Linked DNA regions of Homo sapiens. The protein of the gene in region 2 interacts with the protein of the main gene of each other region in a biochemical or structural test. Each region holds a gene or a part of one and is shown on either strand. Other genes may lie near its edges.

Region 1 (7,900 bases), on a different chromosome or scaffold from region 2:
GTATAAAATTGGTATTTCTTCCTAAAAGGTTTGGTAAAATTCTTCAGTGAAGCCATCTGGGCTCAGAGTTTTCTTTTTCTTTTGAGACAGAGATTGCTCTGTTGCCCAGGCTGGAGTGCGGTGGTGCAATCTCAGCTCACTGCACCCTCCGCCTCTGAGGTTCAAGCGATTCTCCTGCCTCAGCCTCCCGAGTAGCTGGGACTACAGGAGCACACCACCATGCCTGGCTCATTTTTGTATTTTTAGTAGAGACGGGGCTTCACCATGCTAGCCAGGCTGGTCTTGAACTCCTGACCTCGTGATCCACCCACCTCAGCCTCCCAAAGTGCTGGGATTACAGGCATGAGCCATCATGCTTGGCCTGGGCCTGGCGTTTTCTTTGTGGGATTATTTCTATCTAAAAATCCCTTTTCCTTAATAGAGATAGGGCTAGTAAGGTTCTGACGTTTTCTTCTTTTTGCCTGTAGAGAGGTCTCATTATGTTTCCTGGGCTGGTCTTGAACTCTTGGCCTCCCAAAATGTTGAGATTACATGTGTAAGCCTCCATGCCCACCCAAGGTTCTGTATTTAAGTGAGTTTTGGTAGTTTGTCTTCAAGGAAGTTACTAACTTCAACTAAGACATTGAATGTATTCGTATCGTTTTTCAAAATATTCCCTTATTATCTGTAGGATCAATAGTGATATTCCTTAGTTCCTAATATTGTTAATTAGTATCTTTTTTCCTGATTTATCAATTTTATTGATCTTTTCAAAGAACTTTCCGTTTTTTTCTATTCTCTATTGTTCTATATCCCATTAATTGCTGCTTTTATCATTACTATTTTCTTGTTTATTTTGGATTTAATTTGTTCTTTTTCTAGGTTCACAGGGCCAAACCTGTCAGTGACCTGCTTTTGTTGTTAAAGTACTTAATGCTATAAATTTCCCTTTAAGCACTTCCTTAACTGCATCCCACAATTTTGTTTTGTTTTTGAGATAGGGTCTCTGCCACCCAGGCTCAAGTGCAGTGGCAGGATCATAGCTCACTGCAGCCTTGATCTCCCAGGCTCCAGTAAGCATCCCACCTCAGCCTCCCAACTAGCTGGGACTACTGGCAAACCACCACTCCTGGATACTTTTTAATTTTTTCTAGAGACTAGGTCTCACTATGTTGCCCAGGCTGGTCTTGAACTCCTGAGCTCAAGTGATCCTCTCGCCTCAGCTTCTCAAAGCGTTGAGTTTACAGGAATCAGTCACAGCACCTAGCCTCATTCTAAAAGTTTTGATATATCATCTTTTCATTTTCATTCAGTTCCAAGTATTAGTTTTCTTTGTAATTTCCTCTTTGTAGGTGGGTTACTTAGAAGTGTGTTGTGTAATTTCAAAATATTTAGGGATTTTTCTTGATGTCTTTGTTACTGATTTTTTATTTAATTGCACTATGATCAGGAAATAAACATACCTTGGCCAAGCACAGTGGCTCATGCCTGTAATCCCAGCACTTTGGGAAGCTGAGATGAGAGGATCACTTGAGCCCAGGGGTCTGACACCAATCCGGGCAACATAACGAGACCCTGTCTCTACAAAAAAAGAAAAAAGGGTGGGTGGCTGAGCATGGTGGCACATGCCAGTGGTCCCAGCTTTTCAGAAGGCTGAGGCAGGAGGATCACTTGAGCCCAGGAGTTTCAGGCTGCAGTGAGTTGATTGTGTCACTGCACTCCAGCTTGGGTGACAGAACAAGACCCCGTTTAAATTTTTTTAAAAAACCTTTATGATTGAATCCTTTTGAATTTGAGACTTATTGACCCAGAAGGTAAACTGTCTGTGTAAAAGTTCCATGTGCACCTGAAAAGCACATGTATTCTGCTGTTGCTTGTACTATTCTATAAATGTCAATTATATCAGGTTGTTGGTAGTGTTGTTCAAGTCTTCCGTTTCCTTACTGATTTCATCTACCTGTTTTATCAATTACTGAGAGGCACTGAAATTTCCAAATATAATTGCAGATGTCTGTTATTTCCTTTTTCTTTTCTTTTTTTGAGACGGAGTCTTGCTCTGTCACCCAGGCTGGAGTGCAGTGGCGCGATCTCCGCTCACTGCAACCTCCACCTCCCAGGTTCAAGCGATTCTCCTGCCTCAGCCTCCCAAGTAGCTGGGATTACAGGCGCACGCCACCATGCCCAGATAATTTTTGTATTTTTAGTAGACAGGGTTTCACCATGTTGGCCAGGCTGATCTGGAACTCCTGACCTCAGGTAATCCACCCACCTCAGCCTCCCAAAGTGCTGGGATTACAGGCGTGAGCCACTGCACCTGGCTTGTTACTTCATTTCTGTTTTCCTTTGTGTATGTTGAAGCTTTATTATTAGCTTTTAGGACATTTAGGATTGTTATGTCCGCTTGATGAATTTATTCATTTATTATATAACCTGGTGTTTGTTATTTGCCCTATCTCATAAGTCTATTATGGAAAAACAATAGGAAAATACTTTGGAAAATATATAGGAAACAGAAGGAAAAATGTTTAATAATCAAGGAAGTTAAAAAAATTTTAATGAATTTTCTTTATTATCTGTAAGTCTTATCCATGCTTGTCTCTACTTACATAAATGAGGTTTGCTATGTTTTATCAGATCTTAGGCATAATTTATTGTTGTGAAACACTGAACAAATTAGCAGTATATTACCCTCCACAACTCCCTGTGAGGTGAGTTGCACAGATTTAGGGATGAGAAACGAGGCACAGAGAGTTCAAGGATTTGTCTTAAAAACAAAACTTAAGATTTCCCAGCCTGTTAGTTGACCTCTTTAGTACAGGGCATTTTATTCCGACATAATTATATTTTATTCTGACATAATTATGCCCTCTGGCTCAGATATGAACTTGCTTTATTCTAAGAAACATAGATTACTATCAGAAAAATACTTGAATCCAATTTGGTTTCTCCTCTCCACAGAAGAAATAAATAATGAGTGTGTTATAAAACCTGATCTTGAAACGGTCCTTTCAAGTACACCATCTCAAGCTCATGGCTTTATCTAGTGTCCTTCCTAGCAATGAAACAGGATGGAACAGGCATTCAGTGAGTCTGAAGAGTAAGACTGCAAGTGAAAATTTTTACTCTATGACCTAGTTTCAGGTAGAAAAAAATCTGTCAGTGTTTAATTTTGATGAACTACTACTACTGGAAAGAAAATTCAGGCTACACAGTCTATAGTCTCACTAAAAATGTAGTGAAAATGTTCCAGCTAGTCTATTACATCCCTTGTAGAAAATCTTTTCTTCAGAAAGGTTTAAGCACACAGCTAACAAATACAGGTTAGTTATCCTGTGTTAATACCCCAAGGAGTTGACAGTCAGCCAACAGCTCAGTCTTCCATCCTTCAAGTCCTAGGCAAGAACAGGACTACCCTCACCCAAAATGTTGTAATTTGTAATGTTTTGATTCACATTTTAAATTATTGACTTAAAAAACAAACTCCAAGATGACTTAGGAATCACTTCATAAAGTCTTAGGTCTAGAAGGCTTGTTAACGATCACTTATCCAACTCCTTCCCTATAAGATAAAGAAACTAAGGACTAAAGAGGGCAAATGGCTCACCCATGGTTACACCATTAGATAATGGCAGAGGCAGGACAAGAACCCAGGTTTCTGAGCCTTTTTTCACTTGCCTCTGTTTCTTTAAAAATAACATTTTCTTTTCTGAATTAGCTCAAATCTATTTGGGTAGAGGTTAGGGAACCAATGTGTAGTGGTCTGAATGATGGCCCTCCCCCAAAGAGATTCTTATCTTAATCCCTTGAACCTGTAAATGTTATTTTATATAGCAAAAGATGTGATTAAAAGATGAATCCGGCCGGGCGCGGTGACTTATGCCTGTAATCCCAGCACTTTGGGAGGCTGAGGCAGGCGGATCACCTGATGTCAAGGGTTCTAGACCAGCCTGGCAAACTGGTGAAATCCTGTCTCTATCAAAAATACATAAATTAGCCGGGCACGGTGGCAGGCACCTGTAATCCCAGCTACTCAGGAGGCTGAGGCAGGAGAATAGCTTGAACCTGGGAGGCGGAGGTTGCAGTGAGCCAAAATCACACCAATGCACTCCAGACTGGGTGACAAAGCGAGACTCTGTCTCAAAATAAACATGAATCTACATTTTTTTTTCAGGGACCTGCCACTTTAGGAATAAAATATATTTTAAATCTGCTCTCTCAGGTTGAATTAAAAGATAGGATTGGAGAAATTTATCCTGGTTCATCCAAGTGGTTTCTTAATTGCAATCATATGTATCCTTATAATACACAGGTAGAGGGAGAGTTCTGATGCAAGTACTCAAAAGAGAAGACAATGTGAAAACAGAACAGAGAGATATGCCAAGGAATGCTGACCATAATCAGAAGCTAAAAGAGGCAAAGAACAGTCTCTCTCCTAGAGCCTCCAGAGGGGCCTCAATATCTTGATTGCAGACTTCTGGGCTCCAAAATTTTGAGAAGAATAAATTCCTCTTGTTTTAAACCACCAAGTCTGTGGTAATTTGTTATAGCAGCCACAGGAAACTAATACATAGGGGGAATAAAATTTTAAACATCATAAAGTGGACATATATAAAACATTACTGATCCAAAAAGAATTGTGTTTCAGATAACCCAAAGAATGTCTAAAACCTTTAATCCCTCATTTCAAAGGGTAAATTGAGGCTACTGCAGGATACAATTTGCCCCAAAGAAATTGGCAGATCTGAGAAGAGAAACTCAGAAAGATCTAATATTTACATAGCTGCTAACAAGAACAGTGTAGGTTTTTCTGCAAACATGCTAGTTGGTAGAGCTCCTGGACAGACTAAACATAGGCAGCAGTTGTCACAGTGGGTGTTCTTCCAGCACAAGTGTAAAGCTGTCATCAGAAATGAATATGTGGCTTCGAGTGGCTTACAGAAATCCAACAAATCTGCATCTTGGACTCTGGACAAGCGAACTCTTCTCAGGATGACCTGGACTCCTTCCTATTAGTACAATGATCAGTTAAAATCATTCTCTATAAGCAAGGAAGAAAAATAAAAGTTTATATCAGGAGAAAAAGATGATTGCCCAGAGTCCGAGTTCACGAATAGCAGATATGTAAACAGCCATACTAAGTCAAGTGGTATCTCATGTTGTAATTTATTACTTTTAAAATCAATATCCATAACACAGCTTTAGGCCCAGTTTCATGTAAGATGAATGGAAATAAAAATAATCTAAGTAAAAGGACAAAATAAAGACTAGAAATGCTTTACCAGGACAGTTATTAATTAAATGGGCTATACCAATAAGATATGGAAATCATGCTATGTGGTTAAAGACCTCAATAGAGCCGGGCACAGTGGCTCATGCCTGTAATTCTAACACTTTGGGAGGCCGAGGCGGTTGGATCATGAGGTCAGTAGATTGAGACCATCCTGGCTAACACGGTGAAATCCTGTCTCTACTAAAAATACAAAAAAATTAGCCAGGCATGGTGGCACGTGCCTGTAGTCCCAGCTACTCGGGAGGCTGAGGCAGGAGGATCGCTTGAATCCGGGAGGCAGAGGTTGCAGTGAGCCGAGATCACGCCACTGCACTCTAGCCTGGGTGACAGAGCGCGACTCTGTCTCAAAAACAAACAAATCTCAATAGAAACAAAAAGCGACTTAGTCTTCCTCAAAAATCTTTGTACCCTGATACCAAACCTTTCTCTTTTCTAGAGTATTGTTAAGGGCTCTGAGAATCTCCAGAATTTCCCTAGCCATATACAAATCCAGCCGCTTCAAATGTAGGCTCACTCTTTCTTTCCCCAACTATCATCCTGCTCACCTACTACCCAAATTGAAGCTTTCCACTTACTAGTTTTCAGACAGAATATATTCCCCTTTAGTAAACACCCCTTTTAGATTTGGTTGCAATAGTAGGTATGTCTCTAAGTTTTTTTTTCTTTTTTGAGACAGTCTCGCTCTGTCACCCAGGCTGGAGTACAGTGGTGCAATCTCGGCTCACTGTAACCTCCGCCTCCCAGGCTCAGCAATTCTCCTGCCTCAGCCTCCAGAGTAGCTGGGGCTACAGGCGTGTGCCACCACGCCCGGCTAATTTTTTGTATTTTTAGCGGAGATGGGGTTTCACCGTGTTAGCCAGGATGGTCTCAATCTCCTGAACTCATGATCTGCCCGCCTCGGCCTCCCAAAGTGCTGGGATTACAGGCATAAGCCACTGCGCCCAGGCAGTATGTCTCTAAGTTCTAAGCACAAGCGTTATAACTTCTGTAATTAGAGGCCCAACACGTATCACATTGGAAGTTAGGATTTCTAACTCTGTGATAGTACCAGAATTTCAATGAAAAATTACCCACTAAAATTTCACCACCAGAGAGAAAAGTTCATCATATCTATTAACTACCACATTGGAGGCTGGGCACAGTGGCTCACACCTGTAATCCCAGCACTTTGGGAGGCCAAGGCAGGCAGATCACCTAAGGTCAGGAGTTTGAGGCCAGCCTAACCAACATGGAGAAACCCCGTCTCTACTAAAAATTAGCCGGACGTATGCCTGTAATCCCAGCTACTCAGGAGGCTGGAGCAGGAGAATTGCTTGAACCTGGGAGGCGGAGGTTGAGGTGAGTCAAGATCGTGCCACCGCACTCCAGACTGGGCAACAAGAGCGAGACTCCATTCCAAAAAAAAAAAAAAAAAAAACCTATCACATTGGGAGACATTTTGCAATATTTTTATTGTTTTCCCTCTTTAAGCATTGTGAGACTTCACAATAAAACAAGCAGTTTTCACTTGCACACGACAGTAAACTAGAAAGTCTCGGTTTGGCTCCTATAATCTTTCAAAGTAAAACACATGAGTAAAAACACCAAATAATGGGTCACTGCTTAATCTGTTTACATAGATACTCCTTGATGGGGTTATGTCCTGATAAACCCATCATAGGTTGAAAATATGAAAAATTGAAAATTCATTTCCTACACCTAATCTACTGAACATCATAGCTTAGCCTAGCCTACCTTAAATGTGTTCAGAATACTTACATTAGCCTACTGTTGGACAAAATCACCTAACACAAAGCCTGTTTTATAATAAAGTGTTGAATATCTCATGTAATTGGTTGATTACTGTACCGAAAGTGAAAAACAGAATGGTTATGTGGATACTTGAAATATGGTTTCTACTGAATGCAAATTGCTTTCCACACCGTTGTAAAGGTGAAAAATCTTAAGTCGAAATATCACAAGCAAGGGACCATCTGTACAAGTGGCTGGGGCTGGAGATGGAAGGAACTGACTCAGAAAGCAATCAAAGTTGGCATGATTTGGTGACCTATTCTTCAGATCAGCAGTCTTTTTCCCCCAAAACCCTGGGTCTATAAACAGCTGTGAAATCAGTTCAATGGAAATTGACTGCTTTCTTAAGACAATGAAATAGTATACTGCAGACAAAAGAATATCAGAGTACTCTGCACGTTTAGTGAAATGTTTCAATGTGTGTACAGGATTAGTGTAAAATATATTTCTTATTGCGGTCAAAAAAGTTTTGAGACGTGGATCCAAAAGAATCCCAGGAAAAGAAAGAGGCTAGCTAGAATCAAGTGAAAAAGAAGGATGTGAGGCAAAGTCTACCTTCTTCAAAAACATATTTGCCATTATTTTAGGAAGCCAAACAAGGACAAGATGCAATCAATCGTATGTGTAAGTTTAAGCAGCAAAAAGTGGTAAAAACTTTTTTTTTCTGAGACAAGGTCTCACTCTGTCGCCCAGACTGGGGTGCAGTGGCATCATCTCGGCTCACTGCAAACTCTGCCTCCCAGGTTCAAGCGATTATCCCGTCTCAGCCTCCTGAGTAGCTGGGATTACAGGCGCCCACCACCATGACTGGCTAATTATTGTGGGTTTTTTTGTTTTGAG
Region 2 (8,702 bases):
TGTACGTCAGACACCTGGCGGATTCTAGGGGACACAGCAGGTCAGGCTAGGTAGGGTCTTGCTGCCCTGGGCCACCCCCACAGCCCCAGAACCCACACTTACGAGCTGCGAACCTCCTTGGTGCTCTTCTGCAATGTTGCATGTTTGTCCCCAAGGCGCTTCACCAGTGAGGCCAGGAGCTTGCGCTGGTTCCTCACTGCATCCTCTAAGAACTGGTACCTGAGAGCAGACAGATGTGTTCCTGAGCACTAAGCTACGGAAGGGGTGGCACCCACCCACCCAACCACTATGCCTTGGGACTCACTGGTGGTCCTTGTGGGCATTGAGCTGGCAGTCTCGGCAGGTGAGAGTATCACAGCTCTCACAAAACAGCACAAGGGGTTCATGCTTGTGTACGTTGCAATAGACAGTACGTTCACCATCCCGAGACTTGGCTGGCCCTGGGGAGTGGGAATCATAAGGCTGGACCTTGCCCTTCACCACCCCCAACTCAGGAAGCAGAATGAGTTGGGGCCTCATTTCCGGCCTGTTCTGTGACACTGGGCCATTTATTGGGAAGATGTAGAGGGTGTGGCCAGGGAAGAACACAGGCCTGCAAGCCCAACTCCTTGCTCCCAGAATCCTCTGCCCCAACATAGCTGAGAAACACATCCCTTTCTTCTAGCTTCTAGAGATAACAACAATGTAAGGGTAAGGATAACAGCGTCTAGAAAAAGAGGACCACCCCACCCCACCCCCCACCCCCGCTGACCCTTCCCCACACTGTTCCCTTTACTGAACACTTCTCCAAGTGGACATACTCAGAATTCTGCCTACACACCACCCTGGATTCCTTTTCTTCTCCTTTCATGGTTAACTTCCTCCCTCTTCCCTGACAAGAGAACACCAGGGTCTCTTACAATCCAAGGGCCCAGAGGAAACCTTGTAGAGGTTCTCATACTGGGAGAGATGAAATGTCAAACCAGGACCCTCAGAATGGTGGTCACACCCCCTCTAGAGCAGAATCTTGGTGCTCAGCATAATCCCACCCAAAGACCAACCCATTAATAACCTCCAAAGCCTGTCTCCCCATTAGAAAACTGATCAAACACACTGGTCCCACATACCAACCAAATCCAAAATATGTAGCATCAGGGCTCATTGGGGAAACTGACTTCCCCAATGCCACTCATTCCTGCACCCTGACCTTTGCCTGGGACGTCTGGAATGTAGGACACCCTGCAGCCCCTGCGTATCCCTCCTGGCTGCTCAGGCCCCACAGCCACCACCTTCCCGCTATCTTCCACCAATGCTGTCCTCTGGGATGGGAAGAATCACAGTATGGCTACCAAAAGGCCACTCATGGGAGGATTCTGGCCCCAAAACTTGGCTAGACTCAAAAGACTCTCAAGCTCCTTCCAAACCAAAGCTAGCTGTGTCTGTGAAAAGCTGGAAATGCCAAACCAAACTTTGGGTAAGTCTCTGCCAACTCAAAAGCTAAAACACTTCCAAAAATCATCATCACTTATAATCCATGGACCCACAGTCTACTTTCCCTAGCAGCATCTTATACCAGATGTGTGCCAGGGAACCACAAACCCAGAAAGCCCTTCACACCATGCCTTTCCCTGTTTGCATATGCTGAGCCCTTCACCACCAGGTCTGACAACTCCCTGATAAGCCTTCTCAAACCCTTTGTACCTCCCTGCAGCACATTAAGGTCTCCCTTATTTCCCCTTCCCACCCTCTCCCACCTAGGCCCTAGAGACTACACACCACAACCCCAGTTTTTCTGCTTCTGGAGTTCTGCCCTCGGGCCCTTCGGGCGGCACCCCCTAGAGAACTCTAGGACCCATCCACCAGATGCAACCAACATCATAAAAGCAACTGAGGGCACACATGGGAGAACAACTCCAACAGCCCCCCTCAGCCTCATGTACCAGTAGAGCGCACAGTATGGTCCTTGGTGTACTTCACCCGCTGGTGCGCCTCTACACAGGTCTCACACAGAGGCTCCGAGCACTCCACACAGTAGCTGGTGGCTGGGGCATTATCCTCACAGCTAGTGCAGCACTGCCAGACAAAGGCAGGGTCAGAGAAGGCAAGACAACTTGATAGATCCACGTTTACATCCCAGAAAATACAACCGGAGATTTAAGATTGGTCCCTTGACCCAACCTAGGCAGCCCACCCAGAGCCTTGGGAAAGTGGAGTAACAGCCTGGAGCTGGTGCCAAGCTCCTCCTGCGCAGATGCCCCCTCCCCAGAAACCTCCTTGTGGTTGCTGAGATAGGACGCACCTGGTTCGCATCCTGGGCGTCGGTGGCAGCCTTGCTGCCACTATCACGCATGAAATAATTCTCCACGATGTCTTTGGAGAAGCACTGTTGCTTGCACACGGGACAGTCCACCACTTCGAGAAGCAGGGATGTGGGAGACTGTTACAAGTTCCCACCCAGGTTATGGCCCCCACCATTCCCCTGCTGGGTGGGCCCCCGACCATTATCCCGCAGCGAACCAGCCCCTCCCCTCCCCGAGCCTTCTTTTCTCCAACTTTAGTCAGATGTCCCATCTCAGCGGCCAGCACAAACCCACGTTCGTATGCAGGACCCAGAAAGTATTTCCCGTGCCCTGTCCGGGCCCCCATCCTCTCGCCCAGGTGGCATCCTCATCTCTGCACCCAGTCGGAATCAAAGGCAGAGAGTAGGGGGAGGGGTGGCACCGATCACTTCGTACTTACCGGTGCCGTCGCCCGCCGCCCCGCCGTCCCCCGAGCTGTTGGCGGCGGCGGGGGCCGCGGGCCCTAAGCAGGCACTACAGGCCGAGTGCAAACAGGGCAGCAGGCGGGGCTCCCTCTCGGGTCGCAGGCGCTCTCTGCACACGCCGCAGTGCTCCAGCAGCTCCAGCGCCTCGGCGCCGCCCCCCGCGGGCGACGACGCCGCGGCTGAGGCAGAGGCCGAGGCTGCGGCCGAAGGGGCGGTGGAGCGCTTTTCGCCGCCAGCGGAGCCCTCGCCCGGGCCCGGGCTGCCAGAGGCGGCCGAGGCCGCTGCTGCCGAGGCTGCCGCCGCGGAGGCCGCCATTCACACGCCGCCGGGGGCGCCCAGGGGGGGAGGAGGGGCGCGGGGCCCGCCGCGCAGGCGCAGACGCGCTCGCCGCCAACTGCTGGGCCGCTGCCGCCGCCGCCGCCGCGAGGCCGAGCGCCGCCACGCGCCTCCTGGGCCGCTGCCCGCCGCGCGCGGGACGCTGCTACGGCACGGCCAACTGCTGCCTGCTCGCCTCCCGAAGGCGCCGCCCGCGCTTCTTCCTCAGCCGCCGCCGAAACCCGCACCACGCGCCACAAGCACAAGCACAACCGCTCGCCCGCGCGCCCGCTCGCAGAAAGAGCCGAGGCCGGGGGGCGGGACAGAAATAACTGGCGCCGACGCCGCCGCGCACGCGCATTGGGCGCCTCACGCCCGGGGGCGGGGCCCAGGCCGGTCGGTGCGGGAGAGGCCGCCAGTACGCACGCGCCAACTCCTAGTCCTTCCACCACCGCCAACCCCACGTCGGTGGGGCTCTTGTGGGGGCGGGGCGGGGCCTCTGTGACGTCACTGCCGCAATTGAATCCGCCAGTGGGGTATGCGAACCTTTATAGAGTGTGATTCCCCTCTCAGCTCCACCTCCAGACCACACAGAAGCGGGCCGCTGTGCGCCCAAGCGCATGGGCAATCCGTCCCTCTTCCTCAACCCGCGTCTCTTCGCCGCCGTAGAGTCGTCTCCAGCCTCTGCGTCACTAAGAGTTCGGGATAGGGGGCAGGGCCGATGGAGAAGTAGGCGGGGCCAAGACCGAGTGAAGGGCTGTGTCCAGGGAGAGGGGAGGAGAGTCTCCATCCCAAGAGGGAGGAAGCTCCTGTGTGAGCTCGGGTGCTGACTTTTGGATTTTAACCACGCTATAGTTAAACTTGAGAAACACAGAAACTTGACTGAATCAAATGTAGATCACAGCCGGGCGCCGTGGCTCATACCTGTAATCCCACCACTTTCTTAGGCGAGTCGGGAAGCTCCGTTTAGCCCAGGAGGCCGAGGCAGCAGTGAGGCGGGATTGTGCCACTGCACGCCAGCCTAGACCACAGATGGAGAAAAATGTGGCCGGGCGCGGCGGCTCACGCCTGTAATTCCAGCACTTTGGGAGGTCGAGGCGGTTGGATCTTAAGTCAGGAGTTCGAGAGCAGCCTGGCCAACGTGGTGAAACCCCGTCTCTACTAAAAGTACAAAAAGTAGCCGGGCGTGGTGGCAGGCGCCTGTAATCCCAGCTACTCGGGAGGCTGAGGCAGGAGAATCGCTTGAACCCGGGAGGCGGAGGTTGCAGTGAGCCGAGATCGTGCCATTGCACTACAGCCTGGGAGAAAAGAGTGAAACTCCATCTCAAAAGAGGAGAGAAAGGTTTTTGTGTTTGTTTTGAGACGGAGTTTTGCTCTGTTGCCCAGGCTGGAGTGCAGTGGCACGATCTCGGCTCGCTGCAACCTCCGCCTCCCGGGTTCAAGCGATTCTTCTGCCTCAGCCTCCCGAGTAGCTGGGATTACAGGGGCCTGCCATCACGCCTGGCTAATTTTTGTATTTTTAATAGAGACGGGGTTTCACCACGTTGGCCAGGCTGGTCTCGAACTCCCGACGTCAGATGATAGACCCACTTTGGCCTCCCAAAGTGCTGGAATTACAGGTGTGAGCCACCACGCCGGGCCCCCCAACCCCCCATCAAGAAAAAAAATATATATATATATATACACATATATATAAATCACAAGAGGCTAAAGAGCAATGAGTCTGTGAAATCCCACCCAGCCCCCCAAGGCATCCCCTCCCCATGTTTTCGTCAGCAGCTACCCTGACTTTGATGCTTTTCCAGATGGGGAAACTGAACCTCAACAGTGGGGAATCCCAAGGAGGGAAGGAAGCAGGTCCATGTGGGGAGAATCCTGTCTGAGGTGGAAAGTAGGGTTTGTGTGGGGAAAATCCTGTCTGAGGGAAAGAGGGTGTGTGTGCGGAGGGGAACCCTGTCTGAGGAGGGAAGCAGGGTCTGTGTGGGGAGAATCCTGTCTGAGGAGGGAAGCAGCGTCTGTGTGGGGAGAATCCTGTCTGAGGAGGGAAGCAGGGTGTGTGTGGGGAGAATCCTGTCTGAGGAGGGAAGCAGGGTGTGTGTGGGGAGAATCCTGTCTGAGGAGGGAAGCAGGTTCTGTGTGGGGAGAATCCTGCCTGAGGAGGGAAGCAGGGTCTGAGTGGGGAGAATCCTGTCTGAGGGAAGCAGGGTCTGTGTGGGGAGAATCCTGTCTGAGGAGGAAAGTAGGGTGTGTGTGGGGAAAATCCTGTCTGAGGGAAAGAGGGTCTGTGTGGGGAGGGGAGCCCTGTCTGAGGAGGGAAGCAGGGTCTGTGTGGGGAGAATCCTGTCTGAGGAGGGAAGCAGGGTGTGTGTGGGGAGAATCCTGTCTGAGGAGGGAAGCAGGGTGTATGTGGGGAGAATCCTGTCTGAGGAGGGAAGCAGGGTGTGTGGGGGGAAAATCCTGTCTGAGGGAAAGAGGGTCTGTGTGGGGAGGGGAATCCCTGTCTGAGGAGGGAAGCAGGGTCTGTGTGGGGAGAATCCTGTCTGAGGAGGGAAGCAGGGTGTGTGTGGGGAGAATCCTGTCTGAGGAGGGAAGCAGGGTGTGTGGGGTGAGAATCCTGTCTGAGGAGGGAAGCAGGGTCTGTGTGGGGAGAATCCTGTCTGAGGAGGGAAGCAGGGTCTGTGTGGGGAGAATCCTGTCTGAGGAGGGAAGCAGGGTCTGTGTGGGGAGAATCCTGCCTGAGGAGGGAAGCAGGGTCTGTGTGGGGAGAATCCTGTCTGAGGGAAGCAGGGTCTGTGTGGGGAGAATCCTGTCTGAGGAGGAAAGTAGGGTTTGTGTGGGGAAAATCCTGTCTGAGGGAAAGAGGGTCTGTGTGGGGAGGGGAGCCCTGTCTGAGGAGGGAAGCAGGGTCTGTGTGGGGAGAATCCTGTCTGAGGAGGGAAGCAGGGTGTGTGTGGGGAAAATCCTGTCTGAGGAGGGAAGCAGGGTCTGTGTGGGGAGAATCCTGTCTGAGGGAAGCGGGGTGTGTGTGGGGAGAATCCTGTCTGAGGAGGGAAGCAGGGTGTGTGTGGGGAGAATCCTGTCTGAGGAGGGAAGCAGGGTGTGTGTGGGGAGAATCCTGTCTGAGGAGGGAAGCAGGGTGTGTGTGAGGAGAATCCTGTCTGAGGAGGGAAGCAGGGTCTCTGTGGGGAGAATCCTGTCTGAGGAGGGAAGCAGGGTGTGTGTGGGGAGAATCCTGTCTGAGGAGGGAAGCAGGGTGTGTGTGGAGAGAATCCTGTCTGAGGAGGGAAGCAGGGTGTGTGGGGGGAGAATCCTGTCTGAGGAGGGAAGCAGGGTGTGTGGGGGGAGCCCTGTCTGAGGAGGGAAGCAGGGTGTGTGTGGGGAGAATCCTGTCTGAGGAGGGAAGCAGGGTGTGTGGGGGGAGAATCCTGTCTGAGGAGGGAAGCAGGGTGTGGGGGGAGAATCCTGTCTGAGGAGGGAAGCAGGGTCTGTGTGGGGAGAATCCTGTCTGAGGAGGGAAGCAGGGTGTGTGTGGGGAGAATCCTGTATGAGGAGGGAAGCAGGGTGTGTGGGGGGAGCTTCCTGTCTGAGGAGGGAAGCAGGGTGTGTGGGGGGAGAATCCTGTCTGAGGAGGGAAGCAGGGTGTGTGGGGGGAGAATCCTGTCTGAGGAAGGAAGCAGGGTGTGTGTGGGGAGCATCCTGTCTGAGGAGGGAAGCAGGGTGTGTGGGGGGAGAATCCTGTCTGAGGAGGGAAGCAGGGTGTGTGTGGGGAGAATCCTGTCTGAGGAGGGAAGCAGGGTGTGTGGGGTGAGAATCCTGTCTGAGGAGGGAAGCAGGGTCTGTGTGGGGAGAATCCTGTCTGAGGAGGGAAGCAGGGTCTGTGTGGGGAGAATCCTGTCTGAGGAGGGAAGCAGGGTCTGTGTGGGGAGAATCCTGCCTGAGGAGGGAAGCAGGGTCTGTGTGGGGAGAATCCTGTCTGAGGGAAGCAGGGTCTGTGTGGAGAGAATCCTGTCTGAGGAGGAAAGTAGGGTTTGTGTGGGGAAAATCCTGTCTGAGGAGGGAAGCAGGATGTGTGGGGGGAGAATCCTGTCTGAGGAGGGAAGCAGGGTGTGTGTGGGGAGAATCCTGTATGAGGAGGGAAGCAGGGTGTGTGGGGGGAGAATCCTGTCTGAGGTGGGAAGCAGGGTGTGTGGGGGGAGAATCCTGTCTGAGGAGGGAAGCAGGGTGTGTGGGGGGAGCATCCTGTCTGAGGAGGGAAGTAGGGTCTGTGTGGGGAGAATCCTGTCTGAGGAGGGAAGCAGGGTGTGTGGGGGGAGCCCTGTCTGAGGAGGGAAGCAGGGTGTGTGTGGGGAGAATCCTGTCTGAGGAGGGAAGCAGGGTGTGTGGGGGGAGAATCCTGTCTGAGGAGGGAAGCAGGGTGTGGGGGGAGAATCCTGTCTGAGGAGGGAAGCAGGGTCTGTGTGGGGAGAATCCTGTCTGAGGAGGGAAGCAGGGTGTGTGTGGGGAGAATCCTGTATGAGGAGGGAAGCAGGGTGTGTGTGAGAAGAATCCTGTCTGAGGAGGGAAGCAGGGTGTGTGGGGGGAGAATCCTGTCTGAGGAGGGAAGCAGGGTGTGTGGGGGGAGAATCCTGTCTGAGGAAGGAAGCAGGGTGTGTGTGGGGAGAATCCTGTCTGAGGAGGGAAGCAGGGTGTGTGGGGTGAGAATCCTGTCTGAGGAGGGAAGCAGGGTGTGTGTGGGGAGAATCCTGTCTGAGGAGGGAAGCAGGGTGTGTGTGGGGAGAATCCTGTCTCAGGGAAGCAGAGTCTGTGTGGGGAGAATCCTGTCTGAGGAGGAAAGTAGGGTTTGTGTGGGGAAAATCCTGTCTGAGGGAAAGAGGGTCTGTGTGGGGAGGGGAACTCTGTCTGAGGAGGGAAGCAGGGTGTGTGGGGAGGGGAGCCCTGTCTGAGGAGGGAAGCAGGGTCTGTGTGGGGAGAATCCTGTCTGAGGAGGGAAGCAGGGTCTGTGTGGGGAAAATCCTGTCTGAGGAGGGAAGCAGGGTCTGTGTGGGGAGAATCCTGTCTGAGGGAAGTGGGGTGTGTGTGGGGAGAATCCTGTCTGAGGAGGGAAGCAGGGTGTGTGTGGGGAGAATCCTGTCTGAGGAGGGAAGCAGGGTGTGTGTGAGAAGAATCCTGTCTGAGGAGGGAAGCAGGGTGTGTGTGGGGAGCATCCTGTCTGAGGAGGGAAGCAGGGTCTCTGTGGGGAGAATCCTGTCTGAGGAGGGAAGCAGGGTGTTTGTGGGGAGAATCCTGTCTGAGGAGGGAAGCAGGTTCTGTGTGGGGAGAATCCTGTCTGAGGAGGGAAGCAGAGTGTGTGTGGGGAGAATCCTGTCTGAGGGAAGCAGGGTGTGTGTGAGAAGAATCATGTCTGAGGAGGGAAGCAGGGTGTGTGTGGGGAGAATCCTGTCTGAGGAGGGAAGCAGGTTCTGTGTGGGGAGAATCCTGTCTGAGGAGGGAAGCAGGGTGTGTGTGGGGAGAATCCTGTCTGAGGAGGGAAGCAGGTTCTGTGTGGGGAGAATCCTGTCTGAGGAGGGAAGCAGGGTGTGTGTGGGGAGAATCCTGTCTGAGGAGGGAAGCAGGGTGTGTGTGAGAAGAATCCTGTCTGAGGAGG

Evidence for each region. The genes of interacting proteins can lie anywhere in the genome.
Region 1: the proteins of TRIM28 (region 2) and CBX5 form a complex in vitro, tested with the Homo sapiens proteins (6 studies listed by BioGRID, with this or other methods).

The regions. Positions count from the first base shown.
Region 1 is NC_000012.12:54,269,325-54,277,224, forward strand, and holds part of CBX5 (chromobox protein homolog 5), read right to left. Parts: intron 1-7,900. UniProt on the Homo sapiens protein: Component of heterochromatin that recognizes and binds histone H3 tails methylated at 'Lys-9' (H3K9me), leading to epigenetic repression. In contrast, it is excluded from chromatin when 'Tyr-41' of histone H3 is phosphorylated (H3Y41ph).
Region 2 is NC_000019.10:58,539,114-58,547,815, reverse strand, and holds the start of TRIM28 (transcription intermediary factor 1-beta), read right to left. Parts: upstream 3,753-8,702; 5' UTR 3,059-3,752; coding exon 2,719-3,058; intron 2,392-2,718; coding exon 2,279-2,391; intron 2,053-2,278; coding exon 1,920-2,052; intron 441-1,919; coding exon 305-440; intron 220-304; coding exon 103-219; intron 25-102; coding exon 1-24. UniProt on the Homo sapiens protein: Nuclear corepressor for KRAB domain-containing zinc finger proteins (KRAB-ZFPs).